Linked DNA regions of Homo sapiens: region 2 is linked to region 1. Evidence: fine-mapped expression QTL. A gene starts in region 1. The other region holds a variant in brackets. All regions are shown on one strand. Distances are from middle to middle. Region 1 holds the start of TTLL12 (tubulin tyrosine ligase like 12). Region 2 overlaps TSPO (translocator protein).

What was found. PIP is the estimated chance that this variant, and not a neighbour inherited with it, causes the effect.
Region 2: its variant is the best candidate, but not a certain one, in a credible set for the expression of TTLL12 in whole blood (INTERVAL, PIP 0.50).

What each region holds. Positions count from the first base shown.
Region 1 is chr22:43,185,310-43,189,686 of GRCh38, reverse strand. TTLL12 (tubulin tyrosine ligase like 12) reads left to right here and starts at 2,553. Exons shown (of 14, transcript NM_015140.4): 1 at 2,553-2,794. The coding sequence starts at 2,618. RefSeq lists silencers at 2,140-2,259, 2,508-2,667, 2,708-2,927 and enhancers at 3,308-3,367, 3,378-3,457, 3,398-3,902.
Region 2 is chr22:43,160,977-43,165,353 of GRCh38, reverse strand. It overlaps TSPO (translocator protein), which reads right to left. Exons shown (of 4, transcript NM_000714.6): 3 at 4,164-4,302; 4 at 2,112-2,551. The coding sequence ends at 2,363. Among named protein-coding and RNA genes, the nearest start is that of TSPO, 12 kb to the right of the region's middle. RefSeq lists enhancers at 1,302-1,804, 1,805-2,308. The variant C/A (reference allele first, on the strand shown) is at 2,223.

The DNA.
Region 1 (4,377 bases):
TGTAGGTGCCCACCACCATGCTCGGCTAAATTTTGTATTTTTAGTAGAGATGGGGTTTCACCATGTTGGTCAACCTGGTTTCGAACTCCTGATCTCAGGTGATCCACCCGCCTTGGCCTCCCAAAGTGCTAGGATTACAGGCATGAGCCACTGTGCCCGGCTATGGAAGGGACTTTTAAACTCTTTTTTTTTTCCCTGTTTCTCTCTCTCCTTTTTTTCAATTGTCTGGAGGGGGAGGGGGTTGGTGGCAGTAATGGGAGCAGAGCAGTAATTTTATGTTGATTAAATACACATTCTTCAGTGCCTCTTTAGAAGACAACATTTCAGCTGAGAAGAATGAGTCAGGATTTACAAAGTGAGCATGGGGAGAAAGGCTTTCTGGCAGAAAACAGAGCACAATGCTTTCCAGGAGCTGAAGACAACCAGAGATACAGGGACTCACAGTGTGAGGGGAAGAGTGTAATGAAAAGAGGCTGGAAAAGTTGGCAGTGCCAGCTCACACAGAGCCTTGGAGCTCAGGTGAAGAGTTGAACCACAAAGGGTTCCAAGTAGGGATCTGATACAACTGGGTTTACATTTGGGGAGGAGCATGTGAAAGAGGACTGCCCTGTCAGAGCCTCACATTCTCCTGGTCAAAGGGGCTGGGTCAGGAATGTTCACATAATCTGACCAGTACCTGACACAACTGAGACTCAGTCTGTCTTCCCCAGCGGGACCGATGGAAGGGTTGTGGAAGCGGGAGGTGCACTAGGTGTGTACCACTATACCTGGCTAATTAAAAATTTCTTTTTGTAGGGTCGAGGTCTTGCTTTGTTGCCCAGCCTGGTCTCAAACTCCTTATTTCAAGTGATCCTCCTGTCTTGGCCTCCCAAAGTGCTGGAATTACAGGTGTGAGCCAGCATGCCCCATCCTAGCATTGTGATGCTGTTTTACTATATTATTTATTTTGAGATGGAGTCTCGCTATGTTGACCAGGTTGGAGTGCAATGGTACAATCTCAGCCTTGGCTTCCACAACAAAAACCGAGGAATCAGGGTTTTCCTCTGGCCATGGTGAAACCCTGTCTCTACTGAATACAAAAAATTAGCCAGGCGTGGTGGCACACACCTGTAGCCCCAGCTACTTGGGAGGCTGAGGCAGGAGAATCACTTGAACCCGGGAGGCAGAGGTTGCAGTGAACCGAGACTGCACCATTGCACTCCAGCCTGGGCAACAAGAGCAAAACTCCATCCCAAAATAAATAAATAAATAAAATGTTTTTCTCTGCAGCCCTCACCAACTTGAGTTTGGAAATTTTTGCCTTTGCAGACCCACCTGCTTCCTACAATGGAATTGAACAAGTCCGTGAATTGGTGCATTTTATTCAAACTCAGTTCAAAAATGTTATCAAAATAGCATCTGAAGCTCCAAAAAATTTTCAGCCTTTGTTTTTTAGCAAATTACAATTCTTACAAAATTGCAAAAAGGAAGACATTGAAATGTATCCCTATGGAGCAATAAAACTCAATGAGAGTTCAAAAGAGAATGTCTTTTGAAATTCTATAACTGAACTGTTTTCTTTTAAAGAGGGAGTCTGGCTATGTTGCCGAGGCTGGACTTGAATTCTTGGGCTCAAGCTATCCTCCCGCCTCAGCCTCCCGAGTAACTGGGACTACAGACGCGGCCACCACGCCCAGCTCAACTGCACTTCGAAACATCCCGACATGTAGGAGTAAATTCCTCTGACGGGTACACTTGGTCTTAATTGGATCAACTGACATTCCGAATCCAAATATAAGTAATTGAGAAGGGCCACGATTTTGCAGCATCCAAATCTGGTGAAACGCTCACAAGAATCGAGAGCTCCCAAGGCAGGGGGCCTGCGAGCTCTGTGTGCCCGGTGCAGGCACAGAAGCGCCGCCTCACCGGGTTCGGGCCCCAGGACACCTTCCGGGCCGTCGGTGGGGCCTTTTCCGGTCCTGACAGCGCCCTATACGTAGGCACCCCGCCCTCCCGGCATTCCCCGGGGTCGCCGCGCGCTGAGCGAGAAAAGCTCAGCCACCATCAGGTGCGCGTGCGCACACGGCGGCAGCCAAACCACAGGCGCGGTCGCAGACGCGCGCCCCCTCCTGGCAAGCTCGCGCGCTCTCGCACGCACCCCGCCGATGCGCAGGGCCTGCCCGGGGGCCGCGGCAAACCGGGCTGGAGGCGGACTGGGGGCGGGGCGGGACGGGGTGAGGGGGCGAGAAGAGGGCGGGGCAGGGGAGGGGTCGGGGGGGCCGGGAGGAGGACGGGGCGGTGGGGAGGGGGGCAGGGGGCGGGGGCAGGGGGCGCGGCAGGGGCGGGGGGCTGGGGGGAGGACGGGGCGGTGGGCGGGGGGCTGGGAGGAGGACGGGGCGGGGGTGCTGGGAGGCGGGCGGGGCGGGGGGCGGAGGCGGGGGGGGCTGGGAGGAGGGCGGGGCGGGGGGGGGCTGGGAGGAGGGCGGGGCGGGGGGGGGCTGGGAGGAGGGCGGGGCGGGGGGGGGGGCGCTGGGAGGAGGGCGGGGCGGGGCAGGGGGCGGAGGCGGGAGGGCAGGGCCGACGGACGGCGGGCGGCGGCGGCGGTGGCGGCGCTGGAGTCGGCGCGGGTGCTGGCGCCATGGAGGCCGAGCGGGGTCCCGAGCGCCGGCCTGCGGAGCGTAGCAGCCCGGGCCAGACGCCGGAGGAGGGCGCGCAGGCCTTGGCCGAGTTCGCGGCGCTGCACGGCCCGGCGCTGCGCGCTTCGGGGGTCCCCGAACGTTACTGGGGCCGCCTCCTGCACAAGCTGGAGCACGAGGTGCGGGGAAGGGCGGCGGGCACGTGCGGCGGCCGGGGTGGGAGCGCGGCGGGAGCCCGCGGCGCGGGACAGGGAAGAGCGCTCCCGGGCGGCGGGAGCCGCGGTGAGCCACCCAGAGCGCGTCCTGGGCAGCTCTGGAGCGGCGTGGAGTTGGGGGCCGAAGAGTGACAGCAGGAGACCGGGGTACCTGCGGCCCTGATCTGCCCGGGCCCGAGACCGGCTGAGGGCTGCGTTGGGAACTTTAGGTCCTCCACACACCCGAGCCTGACACAGCCCTGCGAGGAGTGAAACTCATCACCCCCACTTCACAGATGAGAACACTGCGGCTCCGAGAGTCCCTTCAGAGGGATTCTTTCAGCCGCTGCCTCACAGGGACAACGGGAACCCCGTGAATTTGTGTAGCTGTAACTGTTGGGTTCACAGAATTCGGTGTTTTTTCATTTGATTTGAGCCTCGGGGTCCCCTCATCTTGCAGGTTAAAGAAAACAGGCTGTGAGAGGTGGAGGAGAAATCTAAAGAAAAATGGAAAAGATTGAGAAGCCTCTAGGTTCTCTCCCTTTTTGTGAGGACGGCCCATCCGGCTCACCTGCCTCCTCCACTCCAAAGCGTTCCCCACTGTCCTGGCTGGGGATGAGCCCTGGATTTTTATTGCGTGCCCAGAGGCTGAGGCCACAGCACCTTCCCGGGCTGGCGGGGGGGGGGGTGTTTTCTTTAGCTGGGACCCGACATCTCCTCCAGGTGCTGTCTCCCGGACGGAGATGAGCCTAGTGGCGCAGGTGATGAAGTGGAAACCCCAGAGCCAAGAACAGGGACCCGGGCCGGGAACTAGGAGTCCCTGAGCCTGGCTGCTGGCCAGACTCTACGGTCTCTGAGCCAGTTTTTCTCTGTGTAATCCTGATTGGACTAGGAACCTTCCTGCTGGAAACGTGCAGTGAGTGGCACCTCCTTATGCTACAGTGTAACAGAGAGTTTCCTCTGCCCCTCACTTCTGCCATATGCTTTCCGAGGACCACTCTGGTCCCAGGCCTGTGCTGGGTGGAAGGGACCTTGGTTTGTTCATGAGGACAAAAAGGTTCCCATGGGCTGCGTGGAAGGAGCACAGTGGGAATGACCAGCTCCTGCCCAGCCAGCCTCCACGGCAGCACGCCCTCCCTCGGGCGGTCACTCGCCCGTCTGAGACCTGTTCTCCATCTGGGAAGGGGATGGTGAGACACCATCTGGCTCCCACAGTATTGGAAGGATGGGAGGTGGCATGAGAAATATGCCTGGCACACAGAGGGTGGTCGCCACCGTGCCACGTCCCCTGCCCAGGCCGCCTTGCCTGCTGTTGCCCTACTAAGGGGCAGCCAGTGTTTTTCCGTGACCCTTCCCCAGCCGTTAAGGACAGAGCTGAATCACTGCTTTACCATTCACAAACTTGCAGCTCTTCCTGAGTGAAGCCTCCTGCTGCTACTGGCCCAGGTGTGGAGGAGGCCGCCAGCAGCAGCAGCACCTGCCAGCGCTGTGGGCCCTTACACCCCTGGCCATCAGCCCTCCTGCCTCACCTTAGGCCGGCTGCCCTGGAAAGGATGGGGAAACTTGAA
Region 2 (4,377 bases), 24 kb after region 1:
GGAGTTGGAGACCAGGCTGCCCAATGTGTTGAAATCCCATCCTACTAAAAATACAAAAATTAGCCAGGCATGGTGGTACACACCTGTAATCCCAGCTACTCTGGAAGCTGAGGCAGGAGAATCACTTGAACCTGGGAGGCAGAGGTTGCAGTGAGCCAAGATGGCGTCACTGCACTCCAGCCTGGGCGATAGAGCAAGACTGTCTCAAAAAAAAATAATAAATAAACCCACTCAGAAAGCATCAAAACCTTAAGTTCCCAGTGGATGACAGCAGCTTAGAAAAGGAGAGAATGCTGTCTGTTACGAGCATTTCCTGGGGAAACGTCGCCAGGCTGTTAAAAGGAAGCCGGCAGACGAAATGCTAAATGCGTTCTCCTCTCGCCCATTTTTCCAAGGCGTTTTGTGGCAGTGCGTGTTTTGTGGCCAGCAGGAGCTATGTGGGACATTTGTTACAGATGAACAACCCCACGAGTTGCGGAGATGGCAGAAGTCTGGGTTGCACTTTCTCCAATCCCTAAGTGTCTGGCACGGACTCAGGTGTCCCTTGACACTTCAAAGGATACCCCTGTGCCCTGCGGGGACGGTGCATGCTCACCGGCATGCTGGAGCAGGAGACAGCCTGGCCTGTAAGTTTCTTGCTAGCAAGGACCTCTCTGCCATCCGCTGCTTGGACTGTCTGCACAGAGCTCTGGAGGAATTCAACTCTGGGCGTCTTGGAGAACTTCAGAAATAAGTTAATAAAAAGGATACACAGAGGCTCCCCAGCTGGCTCCTCTGCACCGGTGAGCATCGGGAAAGCCATGAGGGCTGAGGGCTCAGCTGAGTGCCCGTGGCCGCAGAGTTTTTGGATCCTGCAGAGCGTGATCTGTTGGGCATCAAACTCTGCCAGAGTCAAGGGAGCGGGAGGCTGAGGGTCAGGGTGGAGTAGCGCAGCCCCTGGGCGGGAGCCATCCCTTCTGTCAGAAGAATGCAGTCGACTGTCTACCCATTTCCCTGAGCTGTTCGTTCTTTCGTGTGTGTGTGTGTGTGTGTGTGTGTGTGTGTGTGTGTTGTGCGTGCACCAGAGTGGATGGTATAGACAAGAGTCTCCCTATGTTGCCCAGGCTGGTCTCAAACACCTGGCCTCAAGCAATCCTCCCGCCTCAGCCTCCCAAAGTGCTGGGATTACAGGTGTGAGCCACTGTGTCCAAGCTTTTGTGAACGTCAGGTTGTGTCTGAGCGTACAGGTCGGGAGAGGACACAGGAGCCGGGGGAGAAAAGAGGAAGCAGCAGCCGCGGGCTGTTGAGTGATGACGAGCTGTCTATGAACATTTTGCCAATTTGAATGAACTTAGCTGCCAAAAACAAAAAACAAAAAGCCCGGCAGGTCAGGCCTGGCCGAGGGGAGGGAGCCGCGGGCTGTGTTGCTGAGTGCTGCATGGGTGTGGTGACCGAGAGCAAGACGGAGGAGTGCTGCGTATGGGACTCGGCTCATTTACTCCAAACAGCTGCCTGGAGAGGCCATGGGTCACCCAGTTCGAAGCCGGGGTGAGGGAGTGAGTGGCTGTGACACCTCCAATCCTGGCCGCTCTGGGCCAGCAAGGAGGCCCTGTCTGCTGGAGTCGGGACCTAACCTTTCCTGCCTCTGACTCCCCCTCGAGCCAACTGGGTGTTTGCGGGGCTATCCCTGGTGCAGTGAGGCTGCCATAAGCCTGGGCCCCCGGGGGACAGGGCAGTCAGCACCCCCAACTCTGTCCTGGGTAAAAGCAGCTGAGGGCCACGCACTGGGCAGGACCAGGCGTCGAACAGTGGTTGTGGGCCCGGCCATTAAAGGGCCCGGGCTGAGCATCCCGGAAGCCATGGGAAGCGGACAGGACCCCCTCCCTCTGCTGAAGCCCACGGCCCCAGCTGGGTCTGCGCCAGTGTGGGCCCCAGGGTGGCACCCAGGGCTGCTCTGTTCATCTCCTGCAGGGCTTCGGGAGCGTCCCAGGAAGCGTGGGGCAGCCCCAGCTGGATCCAGCCCTGTCTGGAGAAGGCAGCCCAGGCAGATCCTGCAGAGACGAGCTCCAGTGCAGCCCCAGCTCCCCCTCTTCCCTGTGGCCAGGGGTCCCACCCAAGCAAAAAGGCCATGGTAAAGGAAGTCAAAAACTTTATTCAGCTTATAAAATTCCATGTTCCAAGAACATGCTCTAAGCATGCAGAAAGCACAGGACACTGCTCCCGGGTGGGGGCTCAGGTGGGGC[C/A]ACCTCTGAAGCTCTGCTGACCCCTGGGCCAAGGCCCTGACAGACTAGCAGGCCCAGTGGTCATGAAAGCGTGACGGCCACCACATCACAAGCGTGATGGCACCTGCTGGTGCAGCTGCAGTCCCTGGTGGGCCGGGCACTCACTCTGGCAGCCGCCGTCCCCCACGCCAGCCATGGTTGTCCCGCCATACGCAGTAGTTGAGTGTGGTCGTGAAGGCCAGCCAGGCCAGGTAGGGGTAGAGCAGGCGGGCGGCCAGCGGGCTCACCTGGTACCAGGCCACGGTAGTGGCTGCCGCCGCCCCACTGACCAGCAGGAGATCCACCAAGGCCTGCAGAGATTGGGGGACGGAGGATGGGGAGGCCTGAGGCACCGCGTTCACCCAAGTGCCTGTCCCACTGCCCAACTCCCACTGGATTTGGGAGTCAGGAGCCTCACTCACCCCCACTCCACCCTTGAGTGACCTGGCCAAGCCCCTCCCCCATCGCAGCCTCAGTTTCCTCATCTGTAAAATGGGAACAGTCATGCCACCTGACCCATGCCTTGTGTGGGGTGCACATGACATGCCTGAAGTGAACTCGGTTTGTTCAAGGGTGCGGTGGTGGCTTAGGAGGTCTTGCACGTCCCTTCCCCTCTCTGAGCTTAGAGCCTCCACTGAGAGCGATGCTGACCTCCCAGCATTACTACAAGGCCCAAACAAAAACTTGCTATTTGTCAGGTGCAGTGGCTCACGCCTGTAATCCCAGCACTTTGGGAGGCTGAGACGGGTGGATCACCTGAGGTCAGGAGTTCAAGACCAACCTGACCAATATGGTAAAACCCCGTCTCTACTAAAAATAAAAAAATTAGCCAGGCGTGGTAGCACGTGCCTGTAGTCCCAGCTACTCAGGAGGCTGAGGCAGGAGAATTGCTTGAACCTGGGAGACGGAGGTTGCAGTGAGCTGAGATCACGCCACTGCACTCCAGCCTGGGCAACAGAGCGAGACTCCGTCTCAAAAAAAAAAAAATACAGAAAATTAGCTGGACATGGTGCTGCATGCCTGTAATCCCAGCTACTCGGGAGGCTGAGACAGGAGAATCACTTGAACCTGGGAGGTGGAGTCTGCAGTGAGCCGAGATCATGCCACTGCACTCCAGCCTGGGCAACAGAGTAAGACTCTGTCTCAAAAAAAAAAGGCTGCCGGGCACAGTGACGTGACCTGGAGTCCCAGCTACTCAAGAGGTAAAGGCGGGAGAATCAATCGTTTGAGCCCAGGAAGTCGAGTCTGCCCTGGGCAACACAGCGAGTCTTCATCTCTTAAAAAAGTTTAAAACTTTAAAAAAGAAGCAGTCAGCCGGGCGCGGTGGCTTACACCTGTAATCCCAGCACTTTGAGAGGCCAAGGCGGGTAGATCACCTGAGGTCAGGAGTTCAAGACCAGCCTGGCCAACATAGTGAAACCCCATCTCTACTAAAAAAATACAAATACAAATACAAAAATTAGCCAGGAGTGGTGGTGCACACCTGTAGTCCCAGCTACTCGGGAGGCTGAGGCAAGGGAATCACTTGAACCCAGGAGGTGGAGGTTGCAGTGGGCCGAGATCTCACCACTGCACTCCAGCCTGGGTGAGAGAGTGAGACTCTGTCTCAAAAAAAAAAAAGAAGAAGCTGTTATGTAGAGGGGCCAGTGACCCTGCCCACACAGTACCAGGCTTCGTGTGGGTTTTCCTACACAGTGGCCCCCAAACCCACCCCTGCAACCCCTTCTGCTTTAATAGCTTCCCTCACCGGAGGAGTCAGTAGAGGGGAGGCTCCAGGGTGTGGGCTGCTTACAGCTAGAGAGACATGGCCTTTTGTCTCCCCTGGCCCCGCCTATAGACACTGACCCAGTGTCATATGTGATGCCCCACGTCCTCCAAGGGTCGGATCCAGGGATCAGGGACACATGCTGTGGCCACACTTACCCAGCCCATTTGTCGGGCACCAAAGAAGATGGGGGGCCATGCCCAGTTCAGGGCCAGCTGCCCAGTGTAGAGGCCCAGGGGAACCACAGCCTTCTCTGTGAAGCCTCCCAGCTCTTTCCAGACCAGGTAGGAGCCGTACCTGAAACAGAGGCCGCAGTTCAGAGCACCATTAGGAACAAGGCCAGGAGCGTTGCCCACCTCCGAGTGGCACAGT